Linked DNA regions of Homo sapiens. The protein of the gene in region 2 purifies or fractionates together with the protein of the main gene of each other region. This does not show direct contact. Each region holds a gene or a part of one and is shown on either strand. Other genes may lie near its edges.

Region 1 (6,185 bases), on a different chromosome or scaffold from region 2:
CAGGCTGGGACCACCGCATCCGCGTGTTCCACTGGCGGACGATGCAGCCACTGGCCGTGCTGGCCTTCCACAGCGCCGCTGTCCAGTGCGTGGCCTTCACCGCCGATGGCTTGCTGGCCGCGGGCTCCAAGGATCAGCGGATCAGCCTCTGGTCACTCTACCCACGCGCATGACTCACCCACTCCCTTCCCGGGAGACGAGGAGGGCGGGCAGGGAGGTGGGCATCAGGCCCCAGCCTTGGCCTGAAACCTCAAGGGCCTCTGAGGACCAGCAAGTCATGGCCCAAGGACCATGGAGTCCCCGCTGTCTTCATGAGGTTGGTATTTCCTTTTGTGGAGTGCCTCATCACAGGACGGTGACTCTGGGGGCCAGCCAGAGCCCTGGCCGTCCGAGGCCTGCAGGAGACGTTGGCTTGGGCCTGCTGTGTTGCCAGCTGAGGGTATTTTATAATAAATTTCCATTGCCAAGTTGCAGGCTTGAGGTGGGAGCTCCCTGAGGAGGCCCTGGTCCCCCACTTAGCATCAGTGCCCTCAGACCCCCACCAGGCAGGATGCTCAGCCCCACCCTCACACCTGCTGTTGAATGGGCCACCCCGAGTGTGGGTTTCCTGGGCCAGGCCTCAGGAGATGATAGGCCCCAACCATAGCTGCGTCGATGTCCACATGACCCCTCACCCCGAGGAGGCCAGGAGCTCCCAACACACAGGTTGAGGCCAGGATCAGGATCAGGAAGTAACTGAACTCCCTAAAGAGTGAAGCAGAGAAAGGTGCCTGTGAGGGACGGCAAGGGGGGCTTGCAGCGCACAGGGCCAGGCCAGATGTGGGATCCGGGAGGGCACGCCTGCCCGCAGAGGGTGCAGTGGGGAAGGCGCACAGGGTGCACCTCCAGGTGAGTGCTGGGCAGAAGGCACGAGAGCAGCAAGGGAGTGTGACAAGCACCGCCTCACAGTGGCCAAGGCCACAGTCACAGCTGCGGCTGCACACAGGGTGGCCCCCAGGGCACAACACAGCAAGAGCAGGACTTAGCAGCCAGAGCCTCACACTGCATGCAGCCGGGCCCAGCCTGGCCGGTCGTCTCCTCCTAAAAGCGGGTGTTGATTGGGAAAGAACCATGACCCTGAATATTGGAGTGGGGCCCATGGGCAGATCCAGAGAAGCTGGGACCACACACGCCTGTGTCTGCCCGGATTGCCGGAAGAGCCCCTCTAGCTGAAGGCCCGGGGTGGCCTCCCTTGAGGCAGTTGCCCTGCAAGGCCCTGCCGATGCTCCTTGGGACCCCCACCTGGGCTTCTAGTCCTAGAACTAGACTCGAGTCCAGCAGACCCCCAGGATGAGATACAGAGGGTGACCCTGAGAGTGGCACCAGCCTCCTGCAGGACCACATGGCATTTCCAGGTTTCCAGGCAGAAATCTGAACATGTGTGGGACGGATCGGAAGGGTGTGGGATCCAGGTGGCCGGAGCAGGGGTGGATCAGGGGAGTTCCCGGAACAGACCTGCCAAACGGAGGGCTGGACTGGGCGCTGCAGCTTGGGGCCAGGAAGGCTCCAGTGCCGGGCTGGGGGTGGGGGCTGGATTACAGCCTGAGGGTGGCTGCACTGAGTGAAGTGGACATGGCCAGCCGCCGTGGGGTACAGCCGAGGAGGGCTTCCAAGGCCTGGGGATGGGGGTGTTGGATTTGTCAGTGAGACCTGTGCACCCACTGCAGGGGGTCCCAAGGCCGTGCCTCCCCAACCCCACTGTGAGGAACATGGTTGCTGGGGGGCCCGGAGTCCTTGAGGAGTCCTGTGACCACACTTCTCTGTTGGTCAGAGGTACCATGGGGACCGTTCCATCAAACGGGAATGTCAGTGCTGGCCGGGAAAGCGGCCCCTGGCCCAAGCTTGGAGACCACCTGGCTCGGGTACTGGCCTGGCTCCGTTGGACAAGGGTGGCCACCAGGTGCCCAGGACCTTTGGAGAGGGGGGCCCTGCTGCTTTTCCTCGAGTGTCCTATAGCCGCCAGGATGCGTAGGGCACTCCGGGAGGTATTTTCATATCACTGAGGTGTCAGGGAGGGGAAGGGTCCTGGGTTTAGGCTGCAGTGACTGCAGGTGCTGAGGGAGCTGTGCCCTGGGTGCTCATCACAGGCTGTCACAGTGAGGGAAGGTGTCAGGTTCTGACATCCCCATGACAGCGGCAGGGTAGGTGGAGTGGGAATTGGCTTTGCAGTTTCCCTGCATGCCCTTGACAGCCTTGCCAAAGGCACATCTGCCCCGCCTCAGCTCCCACCCTGAGGGTTCTGGGCCTCTACCCCTTCCCCTGTTTATGTCCCTGTCATCTTTGGCATCATCACTGTAGTTACAAAACTCCCTACGTCCCACAGCCACGAGGTGGGTATCCCACATGAGGGCCCAGGTGTGCATGCCAGCATGAGGTTGGCGAGTGGCACTGCCTGCTGATGTCTTACATAGAGGCCATGAAGAGCTGTGGGCAGGGTGTACAGACCCTGAGTTGGCCCCTGGCCCTCGTGCTTTCAGTCAAAGGCACAAGCAGGGTGGATGGCAGGCGGCTGCCCCCTAGCCTGGCCTTGAGCTCCCTGCCCCAGGCCATGTGGCGTTGAGCAGTGTCCAGGCACATCTTGTTCTGAATCTCAGTGTGCAGGGATGGAGTCGGGACAGCGTGAGTCCTGCATGCCTAACACAGCCCTCACCCCTCCAGTGCACAACGGGGCCACGTGCCCGCATCTGGGTGGCTAGGCAGATAGGGCCCCCCTTGCCAGGCAGATCCAGCTTCTGAGGCCTTATAGACGTCCTGTGGAGGGCAGGCCCAGGACTTTCATTCACCTGGCTGAGCTGCCTGGGAGAGCAGCAGAACCGGTGCTGGGGTCCAAGCCGGCCAAGAGCAGTGCAGCCCTCCTGGTCCTGTTCCTCTCTTGAGCTGCTCCGTGGTGTCCACAGCAGAGCCATGTGGCTCTGGACAGGTCGGCCTTTGTGTCAACAGAACCTGGGTCGTGATGAATCACCATGCGTCTGACCAGCCTTGAAACCCCCACAACAGAAGAAGAAACGGTCTCAGCTCCAGACATCCAGCTTGGAAAAGATGCACCTGAACATTGGCATTCTCTTCCTAGCAAACAGCCACTTCCTGTAGGCTGGCAGGAACGCCAACAGAGCCAGCAGTGAAGGCATTAAGTGGGGAGGAGGGGTGGCCCGGAGGCAGCACGCGAAGGTCAGCATGCAGCTCCTGGGATGAACCTGAGAGGCGACTCCTGGCAGCATGGCTGGTCGCTGCCATCACGCCCCTGGCCAACCCACCAACTGGGAGAGGCAGCCCTTCCACATCTTCCTCCATAATGCTCTTGGGTAGCAGTGAGGCCTCTCAAGCCAGAGAGAACTTGGTGTTTGGAAACAACGGCGGACATTTCTTGCCATTTTCAGTGCCAACTCAGGTAGGTGTGTTCTACCATCCTGTGTTTTTGGGGTGTTTTTTTTTTTGAGTCAGAGTCTCACTCTGTCCCCCAGGCTGGAGTGCAATGGAGCAGTCTCGGCTCACTGCAACCTCTGATTCCCAGGTTCAAGCGATTCTCCTGCCTCAGCCTCCCGAGAAGCTCAGGACCACCCACATAGGTGCAGGCCATCATGCCCAGCTAATTTTTTATTTTTTTTTATAGAGAAGGAGTCTCGCTATGTTGCCCAGGCTGGTTTCGAACTCCTGGGCTCAAGCGATCGATCCTCCCGCCTCTAGCCTCCCAAAGCACTAGAATTATAGGCCTGAGCCACTGCGCCCGGCCCACCATCCTGTTCTTATTGGAAGAATTTCCATGTGTCGAGGCACGGGCACAACGTAGCTGGTCCTCTGCTCAGGGCCCCACAAGGCTGCGTCAGGGTGGCAGCGCGGCTGGGGGCTTTTTCTGTTCAAATCCAGATTCTCGTGGCTGTGAGCCCCAGCCCTGGGCACTGTCCGCCTGGTGGTGTCTTCACAGCCAGCAGGGGTGGCCTTGGGGTGTTCTGTGGAGTAACTTTCACGGCCCAGAGTGGGATCCTGAGTGGCTGGAGCCGTATGCTCCAGCATCCCCAGCCGCTGCCTCCGGTGCAGGTGGAGTGGGCCCCTCTGATTACCAGGAGCTGTCAGAGGGGCAGCAGGTCCCACTCCACTGGCCGGTGGGCAGCTGTGTGCAGGGACGCGGGTCCTGGCACGTCTGCCTGGTGAGGCCCTGCCTCCAGTGCCAAGGGGCCTCCCCTCTCGACGGTGGGCGCCACCATGTGCTGACCTCTGTGCAGCCCCACTTTACAAGGTAGGTTCGGCCAGCACCCCATCCGCGGGCGGGCAGCACTCACCCAGCGTTGCGCCGCCAACAGGGTCCCTCTTAGACAAGCAGCTGTGCCTAGAGCCTTTTCCTTCCTCCCTGCGTGTTACCTGCAGGCCAACAGACGGCCCTGGGTCTGGGACCAGGAGAACCTGCCTCCGCCTCTGGCAGTGGGTGTCCCTGCAGGCAGATTGGGCTTGGCACGTAGACACCGAGGGGTCAGCCGATGCCGGGAGATGATCCCGGGAAGGGCTCCGGAGCACAGCCCAGGACCCGCCGCCGCTGCTGGGCGCTCCATGTTGACGTGCTGTGCGTGTCTCCACTCCCCAGGCAATGATGTTCAATCAGGTGTTTCCCACCTGTGTCTCTGCCAAGAAGCCACAGAACACCCTCTGCACAAAAGGAGTGTTTGCACAAAGAAAAACAACCCTCCGGGGGTTCTTTAGAAATGCTTATACTCAATTAGCTAGAACTTCATGTGAAATCCCAGCGTGGAAGACAACAAGCCGGCACCGGTGAAAACTTTGCTGTGCACCTGCCCTCTACCAAGCTGCCAGCCCCACCAGCCCTGTGGTCCTAGGTGGGCACAGCTGCTGCACGGTCCCCCAGGCCTGCCTCTCCTCGGGGTCTCAACCTTCATACCAGATTTGCCAGCATCCCCATTCCCGCCTTGTGGGTGGAGAGTCCTTGAGACCCTCTGTCACTCTGTCAGCTTCCCCAGGTCAGCGAGCTGTGGCTTGGCTCCCACGCATCAGCTTTTATGGGAGGCCCATTAGGAGCTGGGCAGGAGGGACAGAGGGGAGGCCAGGCAGCCACTGCTGAGTGGGACGGGTAGCCCAGCCCATGAGGCTGGCCAGCCCTACAGGGGAGGTCCCACAGCACTGGCCGGGAAGTCCACATAGGAAAGCATCAGTTGAGGGATGAAGCCACGGACGATGGGGACAACGGCCACAGGGTGTGCTAAGCTGAGGAAATTAGTAGGAGGTGCTCATAAGCTGTTTTGTTTTTTGGTTTGTTTGTTTGTTTTTTCTTTTAAGAGACCAGGGACAGTGGGGGTCTCACTCTGTCACCCAGGCTGGAGTGCAGTGGCATGATCATAGCTTACTGCAGCCTCCAACTAATAGGCTCAAGTGATCCTCCTGCCTCAGCCTCCCGAGTAACTCATGGCCTTTAAGTGAACTGCTTCCACCATCCAGCTGTGCAGGTGGCCTGGGAACAGCAGCACATCTGTCCCCTGCCACCTCTTGCATGCACACTTGACCTCCTGACTTGGGCTCTGAAACCTGTAAAATGTGGGGTGTAGAGAAATCGAGTCATTTGGCCTCATCCTGGTGCCATTATCTCTTGCTACATTAATAAACCACCTCAAACAGAGCAGCATAACAGCCATTCTGGGCACGTGGGCTCCGTGGGTCGGGAATTTAGGAGAGGCTGGGCTGAGCAGTTTGTCTACTCCACGGGGTGATGGCCAGGGCTGGAGGATTCGCTTCCATCACAGCCTCTTCACTCAGGTGCTTGGAGCCTTGGCTTCATTCAGGGGCTGGGCACAGCGGGGACCACCAACCTGAGTACCTTCAAGTGTCCTTGCAGTGTGGTGGTCTCAGGGACTCAGACTTCTTACTTGGGGGCTTCAAGAGCACGTCCAGCAAGCCAGGTTGGAGCCCAGAGCCTTCTGTGACCAGCCCTGGAGTCCAGGAGAGGGGAAACAGATCCCTACACTGGGTGGAGGAAGGTCAAAGTGTTTGTGGCCTTTATCAAATAAGGCTTGTCCTTGTTTCTCTTTGTGTAGCAAGAAAGAGTGAACACAGACAGCTGAGGCCCCAGAAACAGGGAAGGAGCTAGAATCCATGCACATCAGCCTCACACACCATCAGTAGGTGGGAAGAGTCCAGTGTGCACC
Region 2 (7,033 bases):
TTATAGCAGAGTAAACTGAGGCAAAGAAAGTTAAGTTTGTTTGTATTTGGACCACAAAGCTGGTTTGTTGGACACTGAGTCAGAATCCAGATGTTACCCTGGGTTGAGCAAGGGATGACTTCTGCGGATGATTCCAGCGCACAGGAATGCGTCCCAATATCAAATCAAAAGTAAACCACCCTTTCCTATCTGCCAGACGCAAAAAGTTTTCCTATCTGGGCTGAAGTCTCCTAGAAAACATTTTCCCGTTTCTAGTACGGCACAAAGCCTTCGCCTACAAGAATGTATGCAAGTATGTTTAAAAATAAAGAAGGAAACAGTGCAGAAAATCAGCAGCAAGCTGTTTCCCCAAAGAGCTGAGTACAGGAGGATGTGAGCTCCCATGTGCCCCGGCCAATGACTCATTCTTGTGGCACTGTGCCTGCCCTGCCCAACCTCAGTGGCTCAGGGAGTCCGCAGCGGCACCCCCATTGGAAGCCTATCTTGGTTCCAACAGCTGGGGTGTCCAGAATACACGGGGCCTCGGGACAGCAGCATTTTCCATCATCTCTGAGCATCTGTGATTGAGTTTTCAGGATGAAGTCTCCCACTTAAGGCAGAGCAAATTCCTGCTTGGGATTCTGCAAAGATAGCCCCAAGCATTTTCCTCCTTGTCTCATTTATCCTTGTTAACTGCCACATGAAGGAGCAGGAAGCAGGTGGCCCTATGCAGAATGGGAAATGGCCAATGGACATCTGGGACAAAGCCCTTCAGATGACCTTTTGATATGATGTTTTAAAGGTTATCTTGAAATTGCTATAATCACCCAGGCAGCACAGGAAAAGGCCTGCCAGGGTCATCTGACTCCCCAGGACAGCTGGGATCTACCTTGGTTTGCCATTAGGCAGTCAGCTCAGTGGTTGACAGGCCTTTTTCCAGGTTGTTCTACTGGGGACACAGCTTCCCGGTGTTCTGCCTGGTGGAACCTGCAGCTGGAGTCACCCTCAGAATGGTGGCAGGGGAATTCCTGCAAGGGACTGCCCAAACCATCCCCAAATGGGGTCAGTTGAGATTCCAAAGAAGAAATCACCAAGTTCCAAAGCACTTATTAGGGGAACTTACATGTAGAGCGCTGCACTGGTCCTCATGACAGACAGCAAGAAAAGAGGTGCTCCGCTTAAGTATGTCTGCGGCAAGGGCTCTGGGTTATGGAGTTATTTGGCCCAAGGTTGGGCTAATTCCTACATGTTTAGCAACATGTTTAATCTTTCAGTATTTCAGGTAACAACCTAAACAGGGTTTCAGTGCCAGGGAATGTTTCCAGGGCTCAGGCCTGCAGGAAAAGACATGCAGCTGGCCAAGTGACAGAGCAGTCTAGGCATTCTGTGTTTCTCGATCAGGACAGATAAGTAAGTGGGGGTTCCTGGGGGACCCTATACCCGGGAGGGAGGGTAACTGCGAATTCAAGGAAGACTTACTTATAAAGAGGAAGAAGGGTTGAAAGATAGTATCCCTAAGGTGATGTTTCCCAGGGCCAGAAGCTCATAGAACTTTCTGAAGGGAGCAGGTCATCAGCCTTAGCATGAGCCCCGGAGCATCAGTGTCTGCTGGCCGTTGTGTGGTGAGTGCTGTGGGTCAGCCTTTGGGCTGCAGCCAGATAAACCTAGACCCAAAACCTCACTTGGTCACATGCTAAGTGAGCTTCATTCTTCTCTTCTGAAAAATGGGGGGATAATAATGGTATTTATCTAACCATGTTGTGAGGATTAAATCAGCCAATGGATAAAAATTTCCTAGTGCAGTTCCTGGCTTCTGAGTGCTCAGAAATGTTGTCTGTTATTGTTAATTAAAGAGGTCTTTCCCAACTGAATGAGAGTCTTAAAGCTCGTTAAATGGGTTTTGAGGGGACTATCAGACACCTGTATTGCAGGTGTGTGGGTATCTCTTGGAAGTGTGGTAGGCACCCCCACAAACACATTACGCCCTTTGAAGAGCTTTGGGGCCATTAACATCCTGTCCAGTTCCATTTCTTAGAGGACAGGGAATCAAATTTTCTAATGGCGGGCCTACACAGCAATTTGTCATTTTAATAAGCACTCAGATGGCTGCAGACTTCACACTCAGACGGTAGGGGTGACCAATTGACAAATCAGATACATGCTGCCTTTTCCTTTCTGTCTGCTGCTAAAAGACCTCAAGATAAATAGAGACAGCAAGGAATGAAAGAAACAGCACAGGCTTGGGCCAGATGAGCAGGAATCCAAAAATCAGCTCTGCCTGATATTTGGTGGCCTGGGTGTCACTTAACCTCTTTGGAAGCCTGTTTTTTTATTTATCCATCCAATTACTCAGTAAGTACTTTTTGAATACATCCATGTGCCGGGCTGTGTTCTAAGTGCTTGGAATACCAGAGAACAAAATGAACACAAACTTATGCCCCTGTGGAGCTTACATTCTGATGGTGGGAGAGAGACTGTTTGAATTAAGCCTGATTCATAAGCAAACAATATAGTATTTATATAGTGGGGATTCCAATATCTAATGCCAGTGAATTGCTGTGGCGATAAGAAGCCACAATCCACATGTAATGCGTGGGACACAGTAGGTATTTAATAAACTATTGTGATTATTCTTTTTAAATTGCTCCCAGGTTTCTCAAACCCTTTCAACACTTAATGTGTAGTTTGCACCTAGATATTGTTCATTTATTCATTCAACAAACAGCTAGCAAGCATCTATTTTGTGCTAGACTCTGTACTAGGCACCAGGGATACAAAAGAACCCTATAAGAGAGTGAGGCCCCTGCCCTTGAGGATTTCACGCCCTGACCCCTGGATAACAGAAGAGAAGCCTGGGAGAGCCCCGGGGTGGGGGTGGCCTTCCATCTTGTGTTCTAGTGAATCAGAACAGCCCACTTCACTGATGGTGTCTTTTTAACTCAAAGCATCCCAGCTATGGCTGGCGATTCTAGGAATGCCATGAACCAGGACATGGAGATTGGAGTCACTCCCTGGGACCCCAAGAAGATTCCAAAACAGGCCCGCGATTATGTCCCCATTGCCACAGACCGTACGCGCCTGCTGGCCGAGGGCAAGAAGCCACGCCAGCGCTACATGGAGAAGAGTGGCAAGTGCAACGTGCACCACGGCAACGTCCAGGAGACCTACCGGTACCTGAGTGACCTCTTCACCACCCTGGTGGACCTCAAGTGGCGCTTCAACTTGCTCGTCTTCACCATGGTTTACACTGTCACCTGGCTGTTCTTCGGCTTCATTTGGTGGCTCATTGCTTATATCCGGGGTGACCTGGACCATGTTGGCGACCAAGAGTGGATTCCTTGTGTTGAAAACCTCAGTGGCTTCGTGTCCGCTTTCCTGTTCTCCATTGAGACCGAAACAACCATTGGGTATGGCTTCCGAGTCATCACAGAGAAGTGTCCAGAGGGGATTATACTCCTCTTGGTCCAGGCCATCCTGGGCTCCATCGTCAATGCCTTCATGGTGGGGTGCATGTTTGTCAAGATCAGCCAGCCCAAGAAGAGAGCGGAGACCCTCATGTTTTCCAACAACGCAGTCATCTCCATGCGGGACGAGAAGCTGTGCCTCATGTTCCGGGTGGGCGACCTCCGCAACTCCCACATCGTGGAGGCCTCCATCCGGGCCAAGCTCATCAAGTCCCGGCAGACCAAAGAGGGGGAGTTCATCCCCCTGAACCAGACAGACATCAACGTGGGCTTTGACACGGGCGACGACCGCCTCTTCCTTGTGTCTCCTCTGATCATCTCCCATGAGATCAACCAGAAGAGCCCTTTCTGGGAGATGTCTCAGGCTCAGCTGCATCAGGAAGAGTTTGAAGTTGTGGTCATTCTAGAAGGGATGGTGGAAGCCACAGGTAAGGCGCTTTGTCCTCCTCAGCCACAGGTGGCCCTACCTACACTTCAGACTTAGGCAACTGTGACTCCAGAAGATGCAGGTCTGTGCCTGAGAGTCCTGGGGTGGCGCAGGCAACACATTCAATCCCTAAATTGTGGTTTGAGGGGTACTGGTACTCAAGATTGAGTAATAGCAATAGCTAACACTGACAGGAACTTCCCAACTTTCAGGCACTGTCCTAAACAATAAACATCTATCATCTGGCCAAATGTCCTCCCACGCCCTATGAGATATAGTGGGTTATTGTTGTTGTTGTTTTGTTTATTTGTTTATTTTTGAGGCAGGGTCTTGCTCTGTCACCCAGGCTAGAGTGCAGTGGCCCGATCTCGGCTCACTGCAACCTCCACCTCCCGGATTCAAGCGATTCTCCTGCCCCAGCCTCTGGAGTAGCTGGGATTACAGGTGCCCGCCACTGCGCCTGGCTAATTTTTGTATTTTTAGTAGAGACAGGGTTTCACCATGTCGGCCAGGTTGGTGTCGAACTCCTGACCTTGTGATCCACCTGCCTCGGCCTCCCAAAGTGCTGGGATTACACGCGTGAGCCACAGTGCCCAGCCAAGATAGTTTTTATTAAGGTACAGATAAAGACACAGGGACACAGACAGGCTAAATTATTTGCCCAAGAGCAAGCACTTTCGAATGATAGAGCTAGGATGGAAATTGAGACCAGGGACCCCAGAGCCAGCACTTGTTTCCAACAGGACAAACTGCCCCTTCTTGGAACAAGTGTTCTACCCAGAAGAGCTCCCTGGTCAGATAGCTCTGGTAATCACAGGGCGAAACAAAAGCGAACTGGTTTCTTTACAGTGGACTTCTCGCTGTCCTTACCCACTGAGTCTCATCACTGGGAGAGGAGGGGATGCAGAATTTCCTAAACTCAAAAGGTTCTCACCAACCCCTTACTTGGAGAGACCTTTGCTGCAGGGGAAGGGCTTTTGTGGCTGGGCTCCCTCTGGGGCAGCCAGCCCTCAGCATTCTTGCAGAAGGTTGGTTTAGTGAACGCAGGGCAGGTGAGGCTCCTTTCTCACAAAAAAACAGTGCATCCATGCTGAGGCATCAACATCCATGTATGCCCAAGAAAATGCCCTTTGTGTGGCCAGCATGGCACCTCCCTGCTCAGCTACTGACTCACCAGCAGCTGGTAGCCAAGGACCCCCCAGTTCCTCAGCCACTCAGCCATGGCAGACCTCTGTGAGGTGGCTCCAGGGAGTCCAAGGCCTGGGACCGCCTGAACTCTGGCAGAGGACCCTAGTCCCCACCCCACTCGCAGCAAAACCCCACATCCTGCATATTTCATTTCTTCCTCGTGCCTTCCTTTCTCTCTCTCTCTCTTTTTTTTTTCAACCAGGTACAATGAGCAGCTGGTCAGGCCCTAAGGATGGGTTCTAGAAACTCAGTCACGCTCAGAATGATGCATGTCTATTTTTCCAATTCTTGCAAATGACAGTGTAGGGCTGGCTTCAGTCTCATTTTACAGATGTCGAGGCTGAACCTAAAAAGCATTATGTAGACAGTGAGTGTTCATATTCAGCTCTTCCACTTACAAATCTGGAGCTTCTCTCACCACTCTGCCCCACTAAAATACTAGCGGCCTGTCAGGAAGATGGCCAAGCACACATTCCAGCCCCCAGGAAGCTGGCTGCCGGGCAGGGGACTCAGACCCAGACTGCACAAGCCTTCCCATTTTGAAGTTGGTGGAACCAGGAGAGGGCAATGACAAGCTCCAGGGACTGGTGCCAGAGGTGGCTGCTCGGCCATCTGCTGGGGGCTGGAGTCTGGCAGGCAGCATATGGTGGCAGGTGGGCAGCCCCGGGGCCGAGGACAGTCAGGACTCAGGAAGGTTTCCCCCACAGAGCTAGGGGCTTGCAGGTCACCCTGCCCTTGCCTCCAGGGTCAGAATCAGGACACAGGCTGCATTTCAGGGGAAGAACTCCACTCTGAAGCCACAAAAAAGGGATTGGGTGAGAGACATGGGGTCAAATCATAGCACACCTGACCACTCTCCAAGGCCATCCTCACTCCCCAGCCATGCAGCAGGGAGAGCGCCCACAGGCTCGTAGTGGAGGGAGCCAGTGCTATCTGCCCCGCTGCCCCGCTGCACCCCCAACCACACCTCCCTCAAAGTCAGGGGCCCGCCATTCACTTGTCCTCACGGTTTGGCCTCCTTCCCCTCCCACAACCCGGGCTATGCTTGCTCTGTCCCACAAACTGTAGGGGAGATCCAGGGAGATAGGGCAGGAGACCCTGGCCCACATCTGTCCTGGATGTGGGTGGTTTGGTTGTCAAGCACATGCAGCCAGGTGTGGGCTGGGAATCCATGCCTCAGCTTGAGTAGCACAACTCTGCCGTATCCTGCCTGAGCGGGTTTGAGCAAGCTGCTTACCTTGTCAGCAAAGTGAGGAAAATCAATCTCTTAGGGCTGTTGGGAGGATTCAAGATGAAAAGGAGCTGTGCTGATCACTATACCTGACACCTGGGGAATCCTTTCCAAACGTATTGAGCAATGACAGGGACACACCAGGATCTCTAGCTACAGGGCAGCCGCTGCCACACCCCATGAGGAGCAGGAGGATCCCAAAGGGGAAAGGTCCTGCCCATACCTTTCCCAAGGCCCTGGGAGGCTGCAGACGTCTGGCATGGTCTAGGCTGCTCAGGGCCCGGTTTGGGCCTCTCTGCCAAGGCTGTGGGGACAACAAGGGTAACGACTGAAGGGAGAGGCCCGGCCCAGGCAGGCATCACTGAGAGCAGAGAGCAGGCTGTGGGCGCACCTGTGTGGGTGCGCTGGGGCTGAGAAGCAGCCTTGGACCTGGGTCTGCTTTGTATGAGCCCCTCCCAGAGAAAGCCCAAAGTGGGAGCTGGAGACGGTTGCCTTCAGCACCCAACCAACACAGTTAATGCCTTCCTTGGCCAGAAGATTAAATATCAGAAAGCTGCTTTCCTGTGACCCTAAGCACAGAGGCCTCCTCATCCATAAACAAAGCTGCCCTCCTCTCTGGAGAGAAAGCAACACCTAAAAATAGCATAGGCATGGCACGGGCTGAGTAGACAGGGAAACGAGGCATTGGAGCAGCCTCAAATCAAGAAGCCAAGCTCTGTGTGTGCGTCTGCTCCTCTTCCTGTG
Region 3 (7,033 bases), on a different chromosome or scaffold from region 2:
ATGTAATGTTATTATATTTAGCTGATTAAACTTTTCTTGTTACAGACGTGCCAAATACTGGTGTAAGCAAACCTAGAGTTTCTGACGCTGTCCAGCCCAACAACTATCTCATCAGGACAGAGCCAGAACAAGGAACCCTCTATTCACCAGAACAGACATCTCTCCATGAAAGTGAGGGTCTGTTGTGTTATCTTTTAAGTACTGGATTTGCTTTTAAGATTTTATTCTTGAAAGCGAGTGTCAGAAGTGTGTATAATAAAGATATTTCTTGGTTTCATTCTTACAGGATCATTGGGTAACTCAAGAAGTTCAACACAAATGAATTCTTATTCCGACAGTGGATACCAGGAAGCAGGGAGTTTCCACAACAGCCAGAACGTGAGCAAGGCAGACAACAGACAGCAGCATTCATTCATAGGATCAACTAACAACCATGTGGTGAGGAATTCAAGAGCTGAAGGACAAACACTGGTTCAGGTAAGCCAAACGCATCAAGATCTCTGCAAAGAAATACCTTCCGGCCGGGCACAGTGGCTCATGCCTGTAATCCCAGCATTTTGGGAGGCCGAGGCGGGTGGATCACCTGAGGTCAGGAGTTCAAGACCAGCCTGCCTAACATGGCGAAACCCCGTCTCTACTAAAAATACAAAAATTAGCCGGGCGTGGTGGCGGGCGCCTGTAATCTCAGCAACTCGGGAGGCTGAGGCAGGAGAATCACTTGAGCCCAGGAGGCAGAGCTTGCAGTGAGCCGAGATCGCACCACTGCACTCCAGCCTGGGCGACAGAGCGAGACTCCGTCTCAAAACAAAAAAAAAAAAAAGGAAAAAAAAAGAAATACACTCCTAGTTGAATATCTGTTATAGGTATTTCTTATTAGAAATAAATGTGTACAATTTTTATAGAATGGATAAAATAGTAAAATCATTTTATTCTATTTGAGATACAATGTTAAATATGTTTGTTTCTATGAGTTAGCTCCCATTGATGAATTCTGATGAGTTCCTGGATACAGTAGAGTAATTCTTCTGGAAACAACAAGTTTGGCATGAGGAGAAGAGTCTAAGGGGAATGTAAGAGAGTTGAATGGAATGTTTTGGTCCCTGAGGGGTTATGAGTTCCTAAAAATACTAGGGCTAAAATATGCTATAAAAAGCTCTAGAGGGCAGGGTGCTATACCCACACCTGCATAAAATGGGATTTGCCCATTCTAACCAAAGGTTATTACCATCATCACTGGAATTATTCTCTAAAACTACATTTCTTTTCTTTTACTAGATAGAATACAGCTATTCCTGCTTAAAGAAAGTTATTGTATAGAAACATATCCATTCTGTTAAGTTAGGGTTCTCTAACTTGATAGCAAAAAATATATATTGCATGTATATTTATAAAAACTCTTCAGCTCCTTTCTCATTACCACTGTATTCACATCAGTCCACCAGCATGTCCCAGGATTCAGAGAGGCAATAGGAGTCCTGCATGGTGGTAACCAGTGAGGCTAACTATCTGTGCCAGGACCCCAAAACCCCAGTGCTTTCTTTAGAGCTGAAAAGTAGCAAGATAATCAAATAAGTTAGGAGGACACTGTGCTGCTTCTACTGCAATACAGGAAGCTCTACAGGTACACAGCAATGGGTCACGGTTCCCAACGCCCACAGAGAAACATAATACAACTTTGGCACTTTTGCTCAGCAATTCAGGAGAAATTTCAGAGTCATTTAAAACATGTTTGTATTAAACACAAATATAACATATGAATTTTTCAAGCTAAAATGGGAAATCTTGTGCATGTGGCAAGCAACTTCAGGCTGCACCCCAAGTCCTCAGATTATATATTTATTCTTTTGCTGTTGGGGATGCTTTGGTGGAAAAGTTTGAGAAGCTCTGGACTAAATGCTAATGGGAGTTCATCCGCTTAGGTGAATTTCTGTGTCAGCAGGTCTGAAATCACACTTTTCAACAGCAGTTACCTTATATCTATATAAATTTTATTGCCCTTAGTAATGATCATGTAAACACTTTTTTCTTTAAGAGTAAGTTGATTTTCTCACTAGAGCTAAAGAATTGTTTGCAAGGGGGTGTCTGAGACTTAATTTGCATGTAGTCTAGGCAACACATTTTCTAGTTGTCTGGACCAACTTATCACTTCATTTTGGTAGTTGCAAGTCATGTGGGATTTTCTTTGCATTTTGTTACCACTATTACCACCCAATCATGCTTTTTTTGTTGTTGTTCTTAATTAATAGAGACAAGGTCTCACTCTGTCACCCAGGCTGGAGTACAATATGGCAAAATCATAGCTCACTATAGTCTCAATCCCCTGGGCTCAAGCGATTTTCCTGACTCAGCCTCCTGGAGTAGCTAAGACTGCAGGCACATGCCACCATGCCCAGCTAATTTTTTTGTTTGTTTGTTTTTTGTAGAGGCTGGGCCTCACTATGTTGCCCTGGCTGGTGTCAAGCTCCTGGCCTCAAGCAATCCTCCCTCCTCAGTCTCCCAATGTGTAGGGATTATAGGTGTCAGCCACCACACCCAGCCCCAATCATGCTTGTTAACTTTCCAGCTGTCTACTAATTTTTAAACCCCATCTTTTTTGCCTTGTTGTTTACCATCCTCTTTCCTCCCCATGTCTTCTCCCCTGCTATTGCCTTCCCAAAATTGTTGAACTTGAACACACAGTGAGTTCTCACTGCAAGTGTTTCAGCCAGCCCAGTTGCATGCGACACCTGGAGGCAGAGCAGACATCCTCATATGACCCCTAAGGGTATACAAAGCCCTCATCTGATCCCTGCTTCTTTCCTTACCTCCCCACCTAAAAGTGGATGTGGGTTGATGACAACTAGACTCTAGCAGCCACTAAGGAGGTAACAGAGCAGCCTGGTCCTAGTCTTCTAACCTGGATCCCTAATGTCTTTATTTCTCAGTTGGCTCTCCTTTTTCCCATACATGTTTCCCTTGGGCCCCTTCTCCAGCCTAACCATTCCTTTTTATTGTTGCACAGCATGAAAAACAGTGTCCAGCACCTGCTGTAACTGCAGGAATCAACAGATTCAGAGTAGGATCAGCAATGGCAGAAATGTTCACTTTCCATCCTGGTCTTTTCCAGCTGTCTAGGCCAAGAACCCAAAAGAGGCTTTGACCATTCCTCCTGCTGGAATAGATTTGGGGGTGCCTTTTTTTTGCATCTCTTTAAATCCACCAATTAAAGCTAAGAACTCATAGATCAGAAGAGGTAAAAAGAAATGGCTAAAGTGAGAAGCTATGCTTGATCTAAAGGAATCAACAAATTTGCCTAGAGCACCTGTGTAGCCAAGCTGTTCCCCGAAGTAAATTCACAGTGGAGAGCGCCAGACCCACACTTGATCCAAATGTTCATTTATTCCACAATGAAAGAACATGTTCCTTTTGTTAATGGGACCAACCCATAAAGAAAAACAATGATAAATATTCCACTAGCTACATTTAGACTGATATATTCAAATTATATTCAAATTTTTGTTTTACATAAATGCATTGCCTTGGCCAAACTTTGCTTCATAGGGAATGAAGTAAGTACATTGTTCTGGTGCCCCTTCACGCTCATGAATTACATGTAACACTTAGAATAAAACATTTTATGTGCTGTGAAAAATGCATAGGCAATAGTTAAAAATGTAAAGATAAAAAAGGAGTATTAAATGTCTTCAGATCTCTTTTTACAGGTTAATTTTAGCATTTGGTTTAAACCACCAAAAAAAAAAAAAAAAACTAAAACAACTAAAGCACCGTGAGGAAAAATTAATGTCTGGCTCAAAGCATAAAAAGGAAAAGAATCTTAGATGCCTAAAATAGTGGATTCACATTCTGTAGTGAGCTATGTGTATTTCTTTTGTAATGGCAATGAACACAAAACCCTGGATAAACCCATTCTCTTTTTTCCCCCCCTTTCATCAGCCATCAGTAGCCAATCGGGCCATGAGAAGAGTTAGTTCAGTTCCATCTAGAGCACAGTCTCCTTCTTATGTTATCAGCACAGGCGTGTCTCCTTCAAGGGGGTCTCTGAGAACTTCTCTGGGTAGTGGATTTGGCTCTCCGTCAGTGACCGACCCCCGACCTCTGAACCCCAGTGCATATTCCTCCACCACATTACCTGCTGCACGGGCAGCCTCTCCGTACTCACAGAGACCCGCCTCCCCAACAGCTATACGGCGGATTGGGTCAGTCACCTCCCGGCAGACCTCCAATCCCAACGGACCAACCCCTCAATACCAAACCACCGCCAGAGTGGGGTCCCCACTGACCCTGACGGATGCACAGACTCGAGTAGCTTCCCCATCCCAAGGCCAGGTGGGGTCGTCGTCCCCCAAACGCTCAGGGATGACCGCCGTACCACAGCATCTGGGACCTTCACTGCAAAGGACTGTTCATGACATGGAGCAATTCGGACAGCAGCAGTATGACATTTATGAGAGGATGGTTCCACCCAGGCCAGACAGCCTGACAGGTGCGTACAAGGTGACAGTGCTACATAAAACCCAGTGAGGAAATCTTCTGTGTAACTTAAGTTGAAACAAAGAATGAAAAGGTGGAAAAGGCTCATTCGTGTTTTTAATCTCAGATTTTAAACTATAAACTTAAGGTTAACTTGTCTTTCAGGTTCTGTAATTCTTAATACATGAAATTATATACATTTATATCAATAGAATCCTTTTGCAATGGATATAACTCTTTTGTAATATTTTCCCACTAAATATTAGGGTTTAAAATGTGCTTTTTTTGCATTTCATAAGTATTAGTTGCAATTCTAAGCAGTTGACTAATTTTTTTTAATGAAATATTTTTTACCAGCCAGGCCTACCCCTAAACATACCCTAAAGTTATGTTAAAAGGTGGTATCAGAATATCTGTTTAAATGTTTAAATTTTTTCTTTAGAAATGCTTTGGTAATATAGACTAGACTATGAATTTTATCCCCTACTTGATTTTGGCATTTTAACGGTAAATGCACAAAGCGCTTATGAATCACTTTTACATGCCACTCCTATTAAAGCAGAAAGACACCGGGTCCCTAATACAGCTGTTCCAACTTCAGGGTTTTTCGTGGAGGGTTTCCTACATGGTGTAAAGATTTGGTTATTTTAAATAAAATGCAATTTAACTTTAGTGTTTTAAATTATATTTTAAAAGTAACATATACAGAATGGTAAAAATTAAAACTATATGGGAAAATATTGAAATAAGTGAAAGCCTTTTACCCTCACCCAGTCCCATCACAGTTGATGTGGCTTTCAGAATGTTTCTTTGCATTTACAAATATATGCAATCCATGCAAATCTGCACACACATTGTGTTTTCTATTGATGGAATTCTATCATATAGATCTTCTATACTTTGTTCTTTTCACTAACTATGTCTTAAGAGCTCTACCTCATTCTTAATAGATGCATGGGACCCATTTTTTATAGATATATCATAATTTATTTGCATTTTCCTCCTAATGGACAGTTAGGTTGTTTGTTATGTTTAGCTGTTAGAGATGATGTAGTACATACATTGTTCTCCCTGCATATTTCACATAAGTACTAGGGTAACTGGGATCCAGTAGAATTGCTGCATCAAAATATATGTGTATTTTTACTTTGAGAGATATTACGTAGAATTGCCTTCTAAGAAGGTTACACACGGATTTATATTTCTGCCAGTAGTTTGAGTGCCTGTTTGTCTATACCTTGTCTACACTGCACTAGTGCTGCATATTCCAAGTTTTTCATCTTTGCCAATCTGATAGGTAAAAAGCTGTACCTCATTGTTTTTAAGGGCTTTTATTGAGTTATGACTGAGGTTGAAGATTTAATCTGTTCATCAACGACTTTATTTCATTTTGTGAAACTACAAGTTCTTTTGTCTATTTTTATAATTCGTGAAAGCTTTTTTTTACTAGAGATAAGCTAGCACCTCGTAATATGCTTCTCAAGTATTTTTTCCATTTTGTCACTTCTTTTTATTTCATTTTGGTTTTAATTTACAAAACTGTTTAACATTCTTACATAGTAAAATTAGTATCTTTTTTATGTCTTCTAAGAAAATTTAAGCCTTTTTGAGATTTTTGTGATTGAATAATTTTGCCTGGAGAATTTATATTGAACTTGATTTTTGAGCTCAAAGAAATTCTTAGTGGAGAAACCACCTCTTTTTCATTCATCTATCCAAGAAGTGTGCTTGACTTAGATATTTTCTGAAATGCCTCTGAAAAGTATGCAGCAAAATGATGTAGGAATCATTTATGAAATTCTACCTCCCAAGGAAATCTTAGAAAATAAATAGTTCTGAGGACTTCCATATTCCCCCGTGTGTATAGAACAGCTATGTAGAAATCTCTGCTTGTAAGAGAGTAGAGAGGAGACTGGAGGAAGGAAGCCAGCATATAAATTATTGTCTCCATATTTAACCCTAAGAGGACTCATTTCCTCTGGTTTAAACAGTCTGTTTCTCTGACAATGCAGGTAAAATTAGACTTTATGTCTTGGGGGGAAAATATATATAATGTCTATTTTTTAGGCCCAGCCTCTCAGTGATTTTTTTCTAGAAATACTGCAGTGTTCTCAAGAAGCAAAGTGTTCTTGATTTCAAAGGACTAATAGCCTGCTAATTGATAAGCAATGTTTTGTACTACATTCAGGGACTTGGGTATTTGATGATCATAATTTAAATGATACAAACTACAGAAATATATATATATATACTCTAAAATGTTCATTTCAGAATAATCATGGCATGTAAAGAAAACTTTTGAGGAGATAAAGAATTGATCTTTGAAAGATAAATTTATGTTTATTTCTAATGCCATAAATATAAATATTTTTAATCACATGGAATCACCGTAATAATAGCTAAACTAATATGTTTGTGGAATTGCAAATAGAAAGTATTGGTTGGATAAATAATGCAGTGGCGTATCAGTGTTTTCCATTATTTGGAAGGGGAAGTAATGTTATTAAAAATTAATCAGTGGAAATGCTTCTGAAAAAATTATTTTTTATTTATTTTTATTTAT

What was found. The genes of interacting proteins can lie anywhere in the genome.
Region 1: the proteins of KCNJ5 (region 2) and GNB1L purify together in Homo sapiens (affinity purification with mass spectrometry; 2 studies listed by BioGRID and IntAct, with this or other methods). This does not show direct contact.
Region 3: the proteins of KCNJ5 (region 2) and PKP4 purify together in Homo sapiens (affinity purification with mass spectrometry; 2 studies listed by BioGRID and IntAct, with this or other methods). This does not show direct contact.

Annotation. Positions count from the first base shown.
Region 1 is NC_000022.11:19,782,697-19,788,881, reverse strand, and holds the end of GNB1L (guanine nucleotide-binding protein subunit beta-like protein 1), read left to right. Parts: coding exon 1-173; 3' UTR 174-5,659; downstream 5,660-6,185. UniProt on the Homo sapiens protein: Acts as a critical regulator of DNA damage response (DDR) signaling via specifically regulating phosphatidylinositol 3-kinase-related protein kinase (PIKK) family proteins.
Region 2 is NC_000011.10:128,908,340-128,915,372, forward strand, and holds part of KCNJ5 (G protein-activated inward rectifier potassium channel 4), read left to right. Parts: intron 1-1,512; exon of another isoform or gene 1,513-1,601; intron 1,602-2,924; 5' UTR 2,925-2,934; coding exon 2,935-3,871; intron 3,872-7,033. UniProt on the Homo sapiens protein: Inward rectifier potassium channels are characterized by a greater tendency to allow potassium to flow into the cell rather than out of it.
Region 3 is NC_000002.12:158,620,945-158,627,977, forward strand, and holds part of PKP4 (plakophilin-4), read left to right. Parts: intron 1-45; coding exon 46-177; intron 178-286; coding exon 287-477; intron 478-3,933; coding exon 3,934-4,483; intron 4,484-7,033. UniProt on the Homo sapiens protein: Plays a role as a regulator of Rho activity during cytokinesis. May play a role in junctional plaques.